Linked DNA regions of Homo sapiens: regions 2 and 3 are each linked to region 1. Evidence: fine-mapped expression QTL. A gene starts in region 1. Each other region holds a variant in brackets. All regions are shown on one strand. Distances are between the middles of the regions. Region 1 holds the start of RCOR1 (REST corepressor 1). Region 2 overlaps LOC105370680 (a long non-coding RNA gene). Region 3 overlaps RCOR1 (REST corepressor 1).

The links. PIP is the estimated chance that this variant, and not a neighbour inherited with it, causes the effect.
Region 2: its variant is the best candidate, but not a certain one, in a credible set for the expression of RCOR1 in T cells (TOPMed, PIP 0.67).
Region 3: its variant is the best candidate, but not a certain one, in a credible set for the expression of RCOR1 in whole blood (INTERVAL, PIP 0.79).

The regions. Positions count from the first base shown.
Region 1 is chr14:102,591,279-102,594,087 of GRCh38, reverse strand. It overlaps RCOR1 (REST corepressor 1), which reads right to left and starts at 1,439. Exons shown (of 12, transcript NM_015156.4): 1 at 901-1,439; 2 at 763-822. The coding sequence starts at 1,201. RefSeq lists silencers at 463-1,072, 1,133-2,442 and an enhancer at 2,021-2,809.
Region 2 is chr14:102,527,992-102,530,831 of GRCh38, reverse strand. All of the region lies in intron 2 of LOC105370680 (a long non-coding RNA gene), which reads right to left. Among named protein-coding and RNA genes, the nearest start is that of MIR4309, 10 kb to the left of the region's middle. RefSeq lists an enhancer at 1,593-2,094. The variant G/A (reference allele first, on the strand shown) is at 1,633.
Region 3 is chr14:102,629,332-102,631,831 of GRCh38, reverse strand. The region is part of intron 2 of RCOR1 (REST corepressor 1); the gene reads right to left. Among named protein-coding and RNA genes, the nearest start is that of RCOR1, 38 kb to the right of the region's middle. The variant G/T (reference allele first, on the strand shown) is at 1,183.

The DNA of each region.
Region 1 (2,809 bases):
AGAATAGCAGCCAGGGAACTAAGTGTTCCATTCTAGGGTGTAGGGCTTTCTTGTAGGTGAAAAGCATTTGTTAGGCTAAAGCTTCTGATGCTTCTCAATTTCACAATCTCTTCCTCCAAAAAAAAGGAAATACACACATTTACAAATAGGTCCTAAAATCCAACTGCCACACGCGAGACTCTCTTCCCCAGGCAGGCGCCCTCTGGAAAACACACTTCTTTTATTGACTGGTTTTGGGGGGTCGTTCTTCTACTCGCCTTCTGGATGGGAGGGCAGTCAGGAGCCAGCAAGAGCCCAGAGGCTGAGAGGAGGAGCAAAGGCGTGGGGAGCAGCCTTTGGGAAGGGTTCCGAGAAAGGGGTCTCTGGGGACCTCCTAAGTCCGGGGCGCTCGCAGGACACTAACTCTCCGGCACTGCCACCCTTACCCCTGGCCGAGGCGCAGCTCACCTGGACGCAGGGACCCCCAGCGCCCCCAGGCCAGGTGTGGCCACCTCCGACGCCACCCGCAGTCCTCGGAGGCGCAAGGGGGCAGCGGCGCCGGCCCTGCTGGGGGCGACCTGGCCTCCCCCGGGTGCAGAGGCACGTTTGCAGAACACTCGTGTGCGTGTGCGCCTCCTCGTCCTCGCCCTGCTGTTCTCCCCACGGACGGCAGGGCGAACGCACAAAAAGAAAGTTGTCGGCGGGCTCCCGCCCCCTCGGGCTCGCCGGGGACCCGGGGCTCCCGCTCATCCCCGCCGCCGGCCGGCCGGGGCCGCTACTCACCGGGGTCGAAGTCGGGCACCACCGCCTGGTACTGGGGTCCGACCCTCATGCCACCGCCACCTGCGGGGGAAGCAGAATACGGCGGTCAGCGCGGCGCGGGGCGCGGGGCCCGGGGCCGCGGGGGCGGCTGCCACCTACCGTGCTCCTCGTCGCTGGACGAGCCCGAGCTGCCTTCCTCCCAGGAGTTGCTGCTGCTGTTGCCATTGGGCGCCGCCGCCGCCAAACTTTTATTCTGGCCATTATTGGGGGCGGCGGCGGCTGAGGCGGCGGCGGCCGAGGCTGAGGAGGCGGCGGCGCCCGAGGCGGCAGTGGCGGCTGGCGAGGCGCAGGCGGCCGAGGCGGCGGCGGAGGCGGCGGCGGCGGAGGCGGAGGCGGCCGCGTTGTTCCTCCCTCTCCGCTTCCCTGAGACCTCGGGGCCCTTCTCCACCATGGCCGGCATCGGCGGGGGCCGGGGCCGTGCGAAAGTGGCGGGGACCCGCGGCTCCTGAGGAGGGGGCGCCGAGACGGGGGAGGGGGCGCGGGGCCGGCGCGGGGCCGGGCGGGCGCGGCGGGAGCCCACGGGCGCGAGTCCGAGTCGGGGGAGGCCCAAACGGGCAGAGCGCGGAGCCGCTTCAAGCCCCCAGCGACGAGCCGAGCGCAACTTTCGCTCTCATCGCCGCCCTCACTTCACTGGCACCAACTACTCCGGGAGCAGCGAGCGGAGAGGGGAGGAGGCAGGGGCGGGGCCTGCAGGGGCGCCGGGGGAGGGGGGCGCGCAGCCCAACTGACGCGAGATGGCTCCGCCCCCCCTCGCGCTCCCATTGGCTCTGGTGGGATTTGGACAGCCAGCGGCAGCGGGGTTGGCTCCGCGCGCCCGTCCGTCCGGGGCGGCGGGGCGGGGGAGCGGGGAGGGGCGGCTCCGGGCTTCCGTTGGCGAGGTTCGGTTGACGCGTATCGCCCGCCGTACGTGGTTTGAGGTTTGCCATCTCCCTACGCCCCATGATCCATCTCTCCAGGCAGCGGCGAGGAGTTCGCGGCCCTCCCCGCCCCCTACCCTTGGCCGCGGCCCCTGCCCTTGCTGCCCGCGCACGCCTCCCGCAGCCTCTGGCCCCCCATCTGAAGGACCCCGCTGAGAGTCCCGTCGACTTCTCAAAGTAAAATGTGTCTGGCGCTGGGAAGCCGCGGAGCGCCCGGCCGGGACTACTTTCCGCTGCGCGGAGGAGTACGGGCGCGCTAAGACTCCATACAAAGAGGAAACTAATTGGGGGAAACTCGCTGCGCCCCCGCCTTTCCCAGGGGACGCGGGGCTGGCGGGGGCGGGGGCCGCGGCGCGGGGGACGGGCTTCCCAGGCGGCCGCCTCCCCTGGCGCGAGCTGCGTGGGGACTCGGGTCTGCGGTGCTGCCCGCTAATTGGGTGGGGGAGGCCGGGGCCCCCGGGGTGGCTTGGGTGCGGGGTGCGCCGCGGCTTCAGAGGCCCAAGGGAGGGTCCCCGTGGGTCCCCGGGGCACAGAGTCCCGGCGTGGGGACGCCCAAGCCGCCTGGGTGGCCGCTGAAAGATGAATGAAGGGGCCCAGTCGTCCTGGGGCGGGGGTCCAGGAAGGGTAAAGAGGAAGAAGCTATTTTCATCCCAAGCTCTCGGCACGGGAGGAGGGTCAACTTCTTTCGGGGCGAGGGCAGCCACTTTTCCGGACCTGCCGCCCGCCCCGCCTCCCTACTCCCCCCGGCACCCCCACGAGGGAGAACACGGGGTGCGGGCGGGTGGGGTAGGCTGAGGCTAGCCTGAGAGCCGCTGCCTTGGAGAGGGACCACCGGGCAGCCGTACAGCTGTTAGGAGGCTGAGGAGTGTAACTGCCTTGGAGGTCCCGGTGCCCTACCCCCAGCCAACCCTGAAACTACGCGCCCTTCGTAATTAGACCAGTGGAGGTCTATACGGAAAATCTTTTTAAAGCAGGGAAGGCTATTTTTCTTTTAAGTTACTTCAAACCTGAGCTTAATTTGGGGACTAGCTCTGGATATAAATAGCTACAGGGAGAATTTGGGAGTTTTATGGTTTTAAAGCCTGAGTAAA
Region 2 (2,840 bases), 63 kb after region 1:
AGGCACAGTGGCTCACACCTGTAATCCCAGTACTTTGGGAGGCTGAGGCAGGTGGATCACCTGAGGTCAGGAGTTGGAGACCAGCCTGGCCAACATGGTGAAACCCCGTCTCTACTAAAAGTACAAAAAATCAGCCAGGCGTGGTGGCGTGAGCCTATAGTCCCAGCTACTCTGGAGGCTGAGGCAGGAAAATCACTTGAACCCAGGAGGCGGAGGTTGCAGTGAGCCAAGATTGCGCCATTGCACTCCAGCCTGGGCTACAGGGCAAAACTCCATCTCAAAAAACAACAGCAAACAAAAAGAAAAAAAATAAAACCAGGTACGGCAGAGCCACAGGATGAAAGGAATAAAGGCAGCCCAGGTTCCTGACACTGTGACACTCCTTGCCATATAAGCCCTGGGCCCCTCTAAACAGATTTTGTTTTTGTTTTTGTTTTTGAGACAGCATTTTGCTCTGTTGCCCAGGCTGGAGTGCAGTGGCACAATTCAGCTCACTGCAACCTCCACCTCCCGGGTTCAAGTGATTCTCCTGCCTCAGCCTCCCAAGTAGCTGGGATTACAGGCGCCTGCCACCACGCCCAGCTAATTTTTTTGTATTTTTAGTAGAGACGGGGTTTCACCATGTTGGCCAGGCTGGTCTCGAACTCCTGACCTCAAGCGATTCACTCCCCTTGGCCTCCCAAAGTACTGAGATTACAGGTGTGAGCCACCGCGCCCGGCCGACATCTTCACAATGAGAGAAAAATAAGCTTCCATTGAGTCTGAGCTGTCCTTTTCTGGGGTTTTCTACTGGGTCCGCTTGACTCTGAGTCTAACACTTTTCTTGCTCTTCCAGAGTTTCTTCTCTGAGGAGGTACAGTGAGGAACAGAGAGGTCTTGGTTCAGAGTAGGCCCTGGGGTTTATGATTTGACATTTTATGTAGGGTGCAGGGACCCCAAATGATTTCTATCTTCATTATTCTATTTATTTATTTTTTGGGATCAGTTTCGCTCTGTCACCCAGACTGGAGTGTAGTGGCGCCATCTTGACTCACTGCAATCTCCGCCTCCCGGGTTCAAGCGATTCTCCTGCCTCAGCCTCCTGAGTAGCTGGGACTATAGGGGCGTGCAATCACGCCCGACTAATTTTCGTATTTTTAGTAGAGATGAGGTTTCACCATGTTGGTCAGGCTGGTCTCGAACTCTTGACCTTGTGATCTGCCTGCCTTGGCCTCCCAAGGTGCTGGGATTACAGGTGTGAGCCACAGCGCCCGGCTATTTTTTAATTTTATTTTATTTTTGAGATGGAGTTTCGCTTTTCTTGCCCAGGCTAGAGTGCAGTGGCACGATCTTGGCTCACCACAGCCTCTGCCTCCCAGCTTCAAGTGATTCTCCTGCTTCAGCTTCCTGAGTAGCTGGAATTACAGGCATATGCCACCACGCCTGGCTAATTTTGTATTTTTAGTAGAGACCGGGTTTCTCCATGTTGGTCAGGCTGGTCTCGAACTCCTGACTTCAGGTGATCCGACCACCTAGGCCTCCCAAAGTGCTGGGATTACAGGCATGATCCACTGCACCCAGGCTTTATTTTTAATTTATTATATTTTTTTCAGACAGGGTGTTGCTCCGTTGTCCAGGCTGGAGTGCAGTGGC[G/A]TGCTCACAGCTCACTGCAGACTTCACCTACAGAACTCAAATGATCCTCCCACCTCAGCCTCCAGAGTAGCTGGGACTCTGCCATTGCACCTGGCCCAGAAATGATTTTTAGTAGTTAACTCCTTTTTCTTTCTTTTTTTAATTTTTGTTTTTTTGAGACAGTGTCTCACTCTCTCACCCAGGTTGTAGTCCAATGGTGTGATTGCCATTCACTGCAGCCTCAACCTCGTGGGCTCAAGTGATCCTCCCACCTCAGCCTCCCGAGTAGCTGAGACTACAGGTGCACGCCACAACCCCCAGCTAATTTTTTTTTTTTTTTTTTTTTTTTTTTTTTTTTTGTAGAGAAGGTTTCACCATGCTGCCCTGACTGGTCTTGAACTCCTGGGTTCAAGCGATCCTCCTGCCTTGACCTCTCAAAGTGGTAGGATTACAGGCTTGAGCCACTGCGCCCGCCTGCTAAACCCCTTTTCACAGGAAATTTTACTCAGAAGCTCAACAACAACAATAACAAAATCACTTCCTGAACTGAGAATGTCCAGTTGAAGTGAGTGGGGTGGGAGCCCTACCCACGTGGCCTCCCCTCCTAGGTCCCCAGTTCCCTAAGACACTCCCAGTTCCCTAAGCCTCTGGCACAGCTACGTATTTATTTATTTATTTATTATTTATTTATTTATGAGACAGAGTCTCGCTCTGTCTCCCAGACTGGAGTACAGTGGCACGATTTCAGCTCACTGCATCCTCTACCTCCCAGGTTCAAGCGATTCTCCTGCCTGAGCCTCTGAAGCAGCTGGGATTACAGGTGTGCACCACCACGCTCAGCTACTTTTTTGTATTTTTAGTACTTTTTGTATTTAGTATTTTTTTTATTTAGTAATTTAGTATATGTTGTATTTTTAGTGGTTTCACCATGTTGGCCAGGTTGGTCTCAAACTCCTGACCTCAGGTGATCTGCCCACCTCTGCCTCCCAAAGTGCTGGGATTACAGGCGTGAGCCACTGTGCCCGGCCAGGGCTACATTCTCGAAAGCACCTTCCTGCCCCCTGCCTTACCCCAGGATGGCAGGACCCAGTCTCTGGGTGTCAGAGAGAGTGACGGGAAGGCTACAGTGACTCAGCCTGGGAGCCACCAACAGCCATCACCCCTGGGCCTGAGGTCGGGCAGGGCTGCTTGTCACCCTCGGGAGTCTTTGGCTCCGGGGACTCAGGGCA
Region 3 (2,500 bases), 38 kb before region 1:
GAGACCCTGTCTCAAAAAAAGAAAAGAAAAAAAAGAAAGAAAAGTAAAGAACAGAACAGAAAAGAAGAGTTGATGGGTTCTGCTTAGAAGCTATATTCAATTTAAAACATCACATGCATACTCAATGCAGTCACATTTTCACATTAGGAGAACTGCAGGAAAACAGATTCAAGATTCAAGGTCACACCTATGTGTTGTTTTCTCCAAGTTGTAGAGATGATAATGATACCCACATGTCCAGACTAGGTGAGGACAGTTCCAGTTTATGTCTGTCAACCTGACATAATTTTTAATAGGCCCCTTTTTATTCTCAAAAATAGTCTGGACTGGGCCGGGCGTGATGGCTCACACCTGTAATCCCAGCACTTTGGGAGGCCAAGGCAGGCGGATCATGAGGTCAGGAGATCGAGACCATCCTGGCTAACACGGTGAAACCCCGTCTCTACTTAAAAAAAAAAAAAATTAGCTGGGCATGGTGGCGGGTGCCTGTAGTCCCAGCTACTCGGGAGGCTGAGGCAGGAGAACGGCGTGAACCTGGGAGGCGAGGCTTGCCGTGAGCCGAGATTGCGCCACTGCACTCCAGCCCAGGCGACACAGCAAGACTCCGTCTCAAAAAAAAAAAAAAGGTCTGGACTAGTCCACTCCCAATGGACCTACTCCCACACCCCATGCAGTCACTTCTCACAGTGAGTTTGGGATGGTCAGAGACACAAAGTCATCGGGGAAATGTGACAGAAGTGATGATATACCAGTTCTGGGCCTACACTTCAAAAAGAACTGGCAGTTTCTGTTTCCTTCCTCTGGGAATGTTTGCCCTGAACCACTGCATAAGCCATCAGGTCCTACTGCAGACCTCACTGGAAAAGGAGAGGTCGTGAGACTACACAGTAACCAAGAAAAAAGGCCCAGCTGTTCCAGATCACAGTGGAGCAAGCAGATGACACCGGCCCCCATTAGCCCAGAACCACAACTGCCCACCTGAACAAATCCTCAAATACCAGCAGTTGTTTTAAGCCATTAAATCTGAGTGGTTCGGTGCACTTTCCTATGAGGGAGAAGGGGACTTCTGGAATTCTTCATGAAACAGTCCGGAGGTGAGTGGAGCTGGGAAATAACTTGAACCAGAAAAGGAAAGCTCCTTCGTGGTGACAGTCCCCACTACCCTTCTTATCTTCTGGATGA[G/T]GTATTACCTTCAGATCCAGGAAACTAACAGGAGGACCAATCCGAGGAAGCTCTGGGAAGGTGAAAGCTGAGAAATGTGTAAGGTGTCGTATTTCTGCACTGATCCCTGATAGGATTCTTACCTTTGAACAGTTGCTTTGAATGGAGTACATGCTAAGCAGATACTTTGAATCTATAAGTATGTATATGATTAGGACCTAAAGGGGTTGTCTTAGTCCCTTTAGTGTTCCTATAAAGGAATACATGACACTGGGTAACTGACAAAGAAAAGAAATTCACTTGGCTCATGATTCCGCCGGCTGGAAGATGGGGCATCTGGTGAAAGCCTCAGGCTGCTTCCACACATGGCGGAAGGTGAAGGGGAGCCAGCATGTGAAGAGGTCACATGGCCAGAGAAGCAGCAAGAGAGAGGCGCCAGCTCTTTTTAACAACCAGCTCTTGTAGGAACTAAAGGAGTAAGAACTCACTCACCCCTCACCCAGGAGGGCATTAATCTATTTATGAGGGTTCCAGCCCCATGGCACAAACACCTTCCATTAGGGCCCACCTCCAACACTGGAGATCAAATTTCAACATGAGGTTTGCTAAGGACAAACCACATCCAAACTATAGCAGTGGTTAAGTAATCTGCCCAAGACTCCCCACTTCTGCCTTACACAAAATAAGGAGGCATCTCTTTATCTAGGAGGTCACATATAATGTAATAATAGTCAAGTCACTTCAAGCTGAGTTCTGCCACTTACCACTTGAGGCCTCAAGCAAGACGTTTAAGCTCTCTAAATATCAGTTTTATGGTCTGTACAAAGGGGATGATGACATGTGTGGTGTAGGATTGTTATGAGGATTAAAAAGATGTTTGTAAATCTCTTTAACACAGTGCTGCCCTTACACTCACATATGCAGACTCGCACACACGTGGAGCTAGAAGCAAGGAGAGAAGGCTGCAAGGTGCCTTCAGAATTGTATCAGCTCATCCATGTTTAGACTACAAATAGCATTTGTAGAGCAATAAAGGTATTCTTTGTGGAGAGTTCCAGGCCAGACACCTATACTTTGTATACCTCCTGGGAAAAGCTCCTGTCCATTTTTTTTATCTCTATCACAAAGCTTCGAAATTCCGTCCGTATTTTTAAATAAACAGAAAACTTGTTACTGAGAGGCAAATTTGCACCAGGCACTATTCTAGAAGCAGTGGTGGGGGGGGGGGAGGCTGTTAAGGCAACAAGATTTTAAAAAGCTCTCCTCTCACCTCACAGTTTACCGTCTAGTTGAAGGAATCATACAATAAACAAGATAAATAAGGAAGTGTGTTAGATGA